2 linked regions of the Homo sapiens genome follow. The protein of the gene in region 2 purifies or fractionates together with the protein of the main gene of each other region. This does not show direct contact. Each region holds a gene or a part of one and is shown on either strand. Other genes may lie near its edges. The genes, in order: STK11IP and TMEM106B.

The links.
Region 1: the proteins of TMEM106B (region 2) and STK11IP purify together in Homo sapiens (affinity purification with mass spectrometry; one large-scale study listed by BioGRID and IntAct). This does not show direct contact.

Annotation. Positions count from the first base shown.
Region 1 is NC_000002.12:219,611,154-219,614,970, forward strand, and holds part of STK11IP (serine/threonine-protein kinase 11-interacting protein), read left to right. Parts: intron 1-99; exon of another isoform or gene 100-208; intron 209-450; coding exon 451-681; intron 682-801; coding exon 802-905; intron 906-1,974; coding exon 1,975-2,072; intron 2,073-2,598; coding exon 2,599-2,777; intron 2,778-3,007; coding exon 3,008-3,089; intron 3,090-3,322; coding exon 3,323-3,393; coding exon of another isoform or gene 3,394-3,536; exon of another isoform or gene 3,537-3,718; intron 3,719-3,817. UniProt on the Homo sapiens protein: May regulate STK11/LKB1 function by controlling its subcellular localization.
Region 2 is NC_000007.14:12,235,172-12,238,988, forward strand, and holds part of TMEM106B (transmembrane protein 106B), read left to right. Parts: 3' UTR 1-3,817. UniProt on the Homo sapiens protein: In neurons, involved in the transport of late endosomes/lysosomes. May be involved in dendrite morphogenesis and maintenance by regulating lysosomal trafficking.

The sequences.
Region 1 (3,817 bases), on a different chromosome or scaffold from region 2:
CATGATTACAGAGCCATTAATTGATGGAGCCTGGAATTGGACCGAAATTTGGCAACAGAGTTCTCTGCCTTTCCAGACCTGTTGATTTTGGTCTTTCAGACGTTGCTAGGAGAGCCCTGAAGTACTTGATCAGCCCAAGTCTGTAAGAGGGCATAAGAGCAGGTCCTGGTTGTGTTTGGCCCAGTCTGAGAGGGCCTAGAGTTAGAAGGTAGAGTGCACTTTGAGGAGTTTGTGGGCCAGGGTTAGCTCATCCCTCCCTGGGGTGGGGAGTGATCAGTTGGCAGCTGTGCCGGGAGAGGGAGCTGGTGGCCTGGGGCGCGGTGGTTGTGTATGAAGCTGGAGGCTTGGGCTCAGGGGAGACCTGAGCATGGGGAAGGAGCATCGTGAGCATGGTGGGAGTTGTGGCACTGTGGGGGGGGCTCATGGGGACCGTGTCCATCCTCCCTCCAGAATCTCCTGCTGTGTGTCCTAACTGTGGTAGTGACCACGTGGTTCTCCTCGCTGTGTCTCGGGGAACCCCCAACAGGGAGCGGAAACAGGGAGAGCAGTCTCTGGCTCCTTCTCCGTCTGCCAGCCCTGTCTGCCACCCTCCTGGCCATGGTGACCACCTTGACAGGGCCAAGAACAGCCCACCTCAGGCACCGAGCACCCGTGACCATGGTAGTTGGAGCCTCAGTCCCCGTGAGTATAGGCAAAACAAGACATAGATGAGTTTGGGGAAGGGAAGGGGCACTGATGGGGAGGTGGAGATGGAGCCCAGGGGCTGCCATGGGCAGGCTGATGCCCCCTCATTGCCCTCAGCCCCTGAGCGCTGTGGCCTCCGCTCTGTGGACCACCGACTCCGGCTCTTCCTGGATGTTGAGGTGTTCAGCGATGCCCAGGAGGAGTTCCAGTGCTGCCTCAAGGTCTGTGCTCCCTGACACTGCCCATGCCCCCAGCTGTCCAGGGTGCCCACTCGTTTCCATCACAGCCAACTGAGTCAGATCAAGCACTCTAGAGACCTGATCTGGCTTCTGGTTTCAACCCCAGCAGCTTCTTGCTGTGTGGCCGTGGACACATTCCCTGGTATTTGAGTCCCAGTTGTTGCCTGTCTGCAATGGAGATAACGATGCCTCCCTTACACAGTGGCGTGCGTCAGGGCTCATGTTGAAGCTGCCCAGCCCAGCACCTGGCACTCATCAATGGGGCCTCCTAGCATTATTATAAACACATGATGTCGTTAGGCCTTTGTTGAGCACCTGTTGTGCTAGACATTGAGGATCTACAGATCAATCTTGCCCTTGATCTTACAGTCTGGTGTGAGAAGCTGACAATGATTATGCAATATGCAAATGCTGTAATCGGGCTAAGGCCCTTGAAGGGGTGTCTAGTCCAGCTTGAGTGGGTCAAGGAACCTTCCTGGGAGGTGATGTCTAAGCTCAGTCTTGAAGGGTAAGTTAAGGAGTAGGGAGGAAAAGAATGTCTTAGGTAAAGGAAGCCGCAAATGCATGGAGGCCCGAGAGTGTCGCTGGTGGGGAGAACTGCCCAGGATGAGGGCACCTGGACATGCAGGGCGAGGGGCAGGGGTCCTGAGAGGACTCTGGGGGGCCGGCAGGGGCCAGGTCAGGAGCTGCCTCCTGTGTCTGCCAAGGAGTTTGGACTTGTTTCTGAGGGCCACTGGGAGCCACTGAAGGATTTGAAATGGGGCAGTGATGGTCAGTTTTGTGCCTTAGAATAGTTAGTCTGGCGGAGCGTGGAGGGGGTGAGGCGACAGGCAGGGAAGCCAGCTGCTGAGGCTCTGAGCGGGCAGGGGCTGCAAGGCAGAGAGCGGTGGTGGATGAAGAGGCTGTCGAGTGTGAGGGAAGCTCCATAGACTGGTGGGTGGGCAGTGGGAGGGTCAGGCCGAGGGTGCTGTCACCAGGAACTCGGCTTTCAGTCTGGCCCCACCTCCCCAGGCCTCTCATCAGGTTTCTCACCAACTTCCTCTTCCCCCAGGTGCCAGTGGCATTGGCAGGCCACACTGGGGAGTTCATGTGCCTTGTGGTTGTGTCTGACCGCAGGCTGTACCTGTTGAAGGTGACTGGGGAGATGCGGTGAGTGAGAGGGGAGATGCAGTGAGTAAGGGGGGAGATGGGGTGAGTTGGGGGGAGATGGGGGAGTGAGGGGGAAGATGGGGTGAGGGGGGAGATGGGGTGAGTGAGGGGGGAGATGGGGTGTTAAGGGGGGAGATGGGGTGAGTGAGGGGGGAGATGGGGTGAGAGAAGGGGGAGATTGGGTGAGTGAGGGGGAGGTGGGGTGAGTGAGGGGGGAGGTGGGGTGAGTGGGGGGGAGGTGGGGTGAGTGGGGGGGACGTGGGGTGAGTGAAGGGGGAGATGGGGTGAGTGGGGGGCGGAGATGGGGTGAGTGGGGGGCGGAGATGGGGTGAGTGAGGGGGGAGATGGGGTGAGTGAGGGGGAGATGGGGTGAGTGAGGGAGGAGATGGAATGAGGGGGAAGATGGGGTGTGGTGAGCGCACGGGGGTGATGCAGTGAGTGAGGCAGGTGCAGCTGGGGCAGGGCCTCTCTGGGACTCTCACTCCACTCTCATGCTTCTCCATTGCTCTGTCCCCTCTCTCCACAGTGAGCCTCCAGCTAGCTGGCTGCAGCTGACCCTGGCTGTTCCCCTGCAGGATCTGAGTGGCATAGAGCTGGGCCTGGCAGGCCAGAGCCTGCGGCTAGAGTGGGCAGCTGGGGCGGGCCGCTGTGTGCTGCTGCCCCGAGATGCCAGGCATTGCCGGGCCTTCCTAGAGGAGCTCCTTGGTGAGAGAGGGGAGGGGAAGGCAGGAGGGTGGGCAGGAGGGTGGGCAGGGCCTTGGGGCCAGGCTCCCCACCTGGTACCCAGTAGCGGAGACAGAGAGGTAACAGGACTTGTCCCTTGTAGAAGTTTCTGAAATCCAGAAATGTGGAGAATAGGAAGGGATTGAGAGGTGGTGAGTTTAGGCTGGAGGAGAGCAGAGCCTTCTAAAGTTCCCTGGCCTGCCTCTGTCTAGATGTCTTGCAGTCTCTGCCCCCTGCCTGGAGGAACTGTGTCAGTGCCACAGAGGAGGAGGTCACCCCCCAGCACCGGCTCTGGTGAGTCGATAGGAGGCAGAGGCTGGGGTTGCTGCCCAATCCTCTTTCCACAGAGCCCCAGACATGGCCCTGTGCTGAGTAGGTCCTGGGCAGCCACCTGTCCTCATGCCATGCCCCTTATGGGCCCCTAGTGTCTCCTCCCAACCCCCTGCAGGGCTTTCTTCCCACTCCCCTCTCTTCAAGTCCTTCCCACCCGCTAGCTGATCTTCCTGTGCCTGCCATATTCCCTCTAGGCCATTGCTGGAAAAAGACTCATCCTTGGAGGCTCGCCAGTTCTTCTACCTTCGGGCGTTCCTGGTTGAAGGTGAAGCCTCTGTGCAGCTGATGCTTCCCTGGTCTCTGTACCCTACCTTGTCACAGGCACTGGCCCACGCGCAGCACCTGTACAGTGCCCTTGCAGCAACTGTCAGTTCCTGGAACCTGGAGAACCTCTCACTTGAGGGCATAGCTGAGTAACAGCCTCAGTGTGCCCTGACCCTCTGGGTGGGGTTAGGAGGCACCCAGGATCCTCAGTTACCCAGAGCCTTTGCTCTCGGGCCCAGGCTTTCTATGAAGTGGAGCAGCGTGGCTGAGTCGGCCCTGCCTCATCAGTCACAGAAGGAGAGGGTGGAGCCTTGTTTCTGAGTAGGGTGGGTGTGGGGCAGTGGGGGGCGGTAGGCCTCAGAGGTATTCCAGAGTAGAGATTCATGGAGCTTGGGAAAGGGAGGGTCTTGGCCCCAGGGGCACAG
Region 2 (3,817 bases):
TTTAGCTTAATTTTCTGTTAAAATTTAGTACCCCTTCATCATTCCAATAAAGATAAGACTGATCCATTGTCTAAGGAAATTATTTATAAATAATAGAGATTAATTTATTTGAGATTTGAAATAAGAATAGTATGAAAATATTAGATACCACATAAATTGTTTGAAATTACTGAATAACCATCTTAAGTATGGAACATTTAAATGGCTATATTTTATTTGTGTACAGTTTTTCTGTGCCTTGTTAGGCCAGTGAAGCAATTATTTTCTCTAAGAAAATGACAATAAAATATAACACACTTCAGATTGTCTGATTTACAGTTTGGAAAGGACACCGCAATGTTCAAATAGGTAGGAGACCATCAAAAACACAATTAAAGTAACATATTAGGAGACTTGAAACTTCAGCCTAATAAATCCTTCATGGTTCTTAGCCTTATTATTGTGATATAATTCTAGATATTTTCTTGGAGGGCATGTGCCCAACTCTCCCGCACCCCATTTTGTTTGTCTTTTAAAGTTCTTAGAATAAACAGTTCTTTATATAATAATTATATTTTATTTAAGAAAATAGTTTGTTAGGTACTTTTTAAAAGATGTAAATTTTTAAATTTACAAATACATATGGGTCTTTGATAAGCAATAGGAATTGAATTACAAGTTACTAGGGTTATAAGCAAAAGGTTGCTTACCATAATGTCATTAGGTCACGATTTTTAGCTCACATCTGGAAGCAGCAACTACTTGGCTCAAGTACATATAAGAGTAATTAGTTTTATTCTCTCTTTTTTATAAAATCGGGTTTCAGATGAGATGTTTATCTTAGACTATTTTAGGGAAAAATTTTACATGTTTGAGATGGTGGAGTAAAAAGACTGTTAAACATTTCTTTTAAAAAATTATTTTTACATTACAACAATATATTTATGATGTGTTCAGATCAAAAATTTAACTTCTGTGTCCCAGATCTACTTTCAAAGTGAGATTTTCACTTGTCAGCTTAAATTTCTGACTAGAACTAACATTTGTGTATTTTTGTGCTTAGTCGGAATACAAATTTCACAGTGGATTTTTGAAGTTTGTCCTTAAATTGGATAAAATCAAGTGATTAAAGTTACTAAAGAGATAAAAATGGTAATTTCCATTTTTAAAAGTAATTTGGTTGTGTTTATAGTTATTTGTACAAGTATTTATCACAGACTCTAAATTGAAAAATGTAGTATGATCTATATTTGACCCTAAAAATGTTGGATTAATTTAACAAATATGGCAGATTTTTCATAACTAAGTCTTAAGTCTTCTAAAAGGAAGCTGTTACCCTTCTGTTTTTAATTACATTAATTGAAATGTGTTTTAAGAGATACAATTTCAGCATATTTTATATATTAAAAAACAAAAAAGGATTAGTATTGAGCCAGTGGCCAAAAGGTAATATTACTACCATGTAGACTGTTATAGTTCAAATTGTCCCACTTCACCCAGAATTTTAGAAACTAGAAGTCTGGGAGGTACTATATCAGCTGTAGTTGGGTAATTCCAAGTGCTGATAGTACTATTCATCTTTTTTATTATTGTGTCAGATGAAACAAATGCCAAGTTGCAAAATATGCAGATTTTTATTATATAATGGTTTTAGGCATAAATTATTAACAAGCCATGCCTTATGTGTTTCATCTTATATTTTTCTTTAGAACTAAACTATAACAGATTTTGGAAAATGATTTGACGTGCTTGCTCACTTGATTGACTTGGTCAGATATTTGAATGATGGTATTACCTAGATTCTAATCCTTGATTCTAGTTATATAATAAATAATATAGAATATGAAAATATGTTTGGGCATTTACTGTTTATATTATGTAGTAGCCTCCATCATGACACACTTACTACATTTATGAATTGAGCAGTTCTGTAATTGTAATTATTATTGCTGTTCATGTAACAAAACATGCTTATAATAGCAAACAAATAGAAATGCCCCCAAAATGCTATTTTTTTAATTCAGTTATAACTGTTACTCTTGTAGTTGTGTATGACGCAATAAAATTTGTAAAAAAATTTCAGCATGAAAAATAAAATTTGTATCACTTATGTATTTTGGCTATGCTTTTGAAATTTCCTTAACATAAACAAATCAGTGTAGATATTCAAAATCTTTTACCTTTAATCCTTTTCATCCTTATAGTCCTTACCTGAACTCTACTTTAGCATTATCTTTGATTTCTTTTTTTCATTCACTTAACTTCCAATCAGTACTCAAGCTTTATCCATTCTACCTCTGTAATGTCTCTGGAATTTATCTCATACGTGAAATTTCCCTTGATATTATAGACATACCTTGGATATATTGCAGGTTTGGTTCCACACCATATCGATAAAGTGATATAATCAAGCAAGTTACACACCTTTTTTTGGTTTCCCAGTGCATATGAAAGTTATGTTTACATCATACTGTAGTCTATTAAGTGTGCAATAGCATTATGTCGAAAAACACAATATATATGCCTTAATAAAAAATAGGCTGTGTGCAGTGGCTCACACCTGTAATCCCAGCACTTTCGGAGGCCAAGGTGGGAGGATCACCTGAGCCCAGAAGTTCAAGACCAAATTGGTCAACATGGCGAGACCCCATATAAAATATATACATACACACACACACACACACACACACACACACACACACACACTATTGCTAAAAAATGTTAACGATCATCTGAATGTTCAGAAGTTTATACTCCTTTTGCCGGCACAGGATCTTGTCTGGATGTTGTTTGCTGATAGATCCATGTAGTGGTTACTAAAGTTGGGGTGGCTATGGCAATTTCTTAAGACAACAATGAAGTTTATCACATCTATTGCCTTGTCCTTTCATGAAAGATGTCTCTAGCATGTGATGCTGTTTTGATAGCATTTTACCAATGGTAGGTCTTTTTTCAAAATTGGAGCCAGTCCTCTCAAACCCTGCCTCTGCTTTATCGACCATGTTTAAATAATTTTCTAAATTCTTTATTGTCATTTCAGCAGTGGTCTCAGCATCTTCACCAGGAGTAGATTCCAACTCAAGAAACCACTTTCTTAGCTCATTCATAAGAAACAATTCCTCATCTGTTCAAGTTTTGGCATCAAGTTGTAGCAATTCAGTCACATCTACAGACTCCATTGCTAAATTTTAGTTCTCTTGCTATTTCCACATCTGCTGTGACTTCCTTCACTGAAGTCATGAACCCCTCAAAATTATCCATGAGAGTTGAAATCAATTTCTTTCAAACTCCTGTTAATGTTCATATTTAGACCTCTTCCCCTGAATCACAAATGTTGTTAATGGCATCTAGAATGGCAAATCCTTTCTGGAAGGTTTCAATTTACTTTGCCCAGATCCATCAGAGGAATCACTACCTATGACAGCTATGGTCTTACAAAATGTATTTCTTATATAGTAAGATTCAAAAGTCAAATTTACTCCCTGATCCATGGCTGCAGAATGCACGTTGTGTTAAGAGGCATGAAAACAACATTAATCTATTTGTACATCATCAGAGCTGTTGGGTGACCAGGTACATTGTCAATGAGTAGTAATACTTTGAAAGGAATTTTTTTTTCCAAGCAGGTCTCAACAATGGGCTTAAAATATTCAGTGAACCGTGTTGTAAACAGATGTCATATTATCCAGACTGTTCCATTTATTGAACACAGGCAGAGTAGGTAAAAGTTTTAAGGGTCCTAGGATTTTCAGGATGGCAAATGAGCATTGGCTTCAACTTAAAGTCACCAGCTACATTCACCACTAAAGAGAGTCAGCCTGTCCTTTAAAGCTTTAAA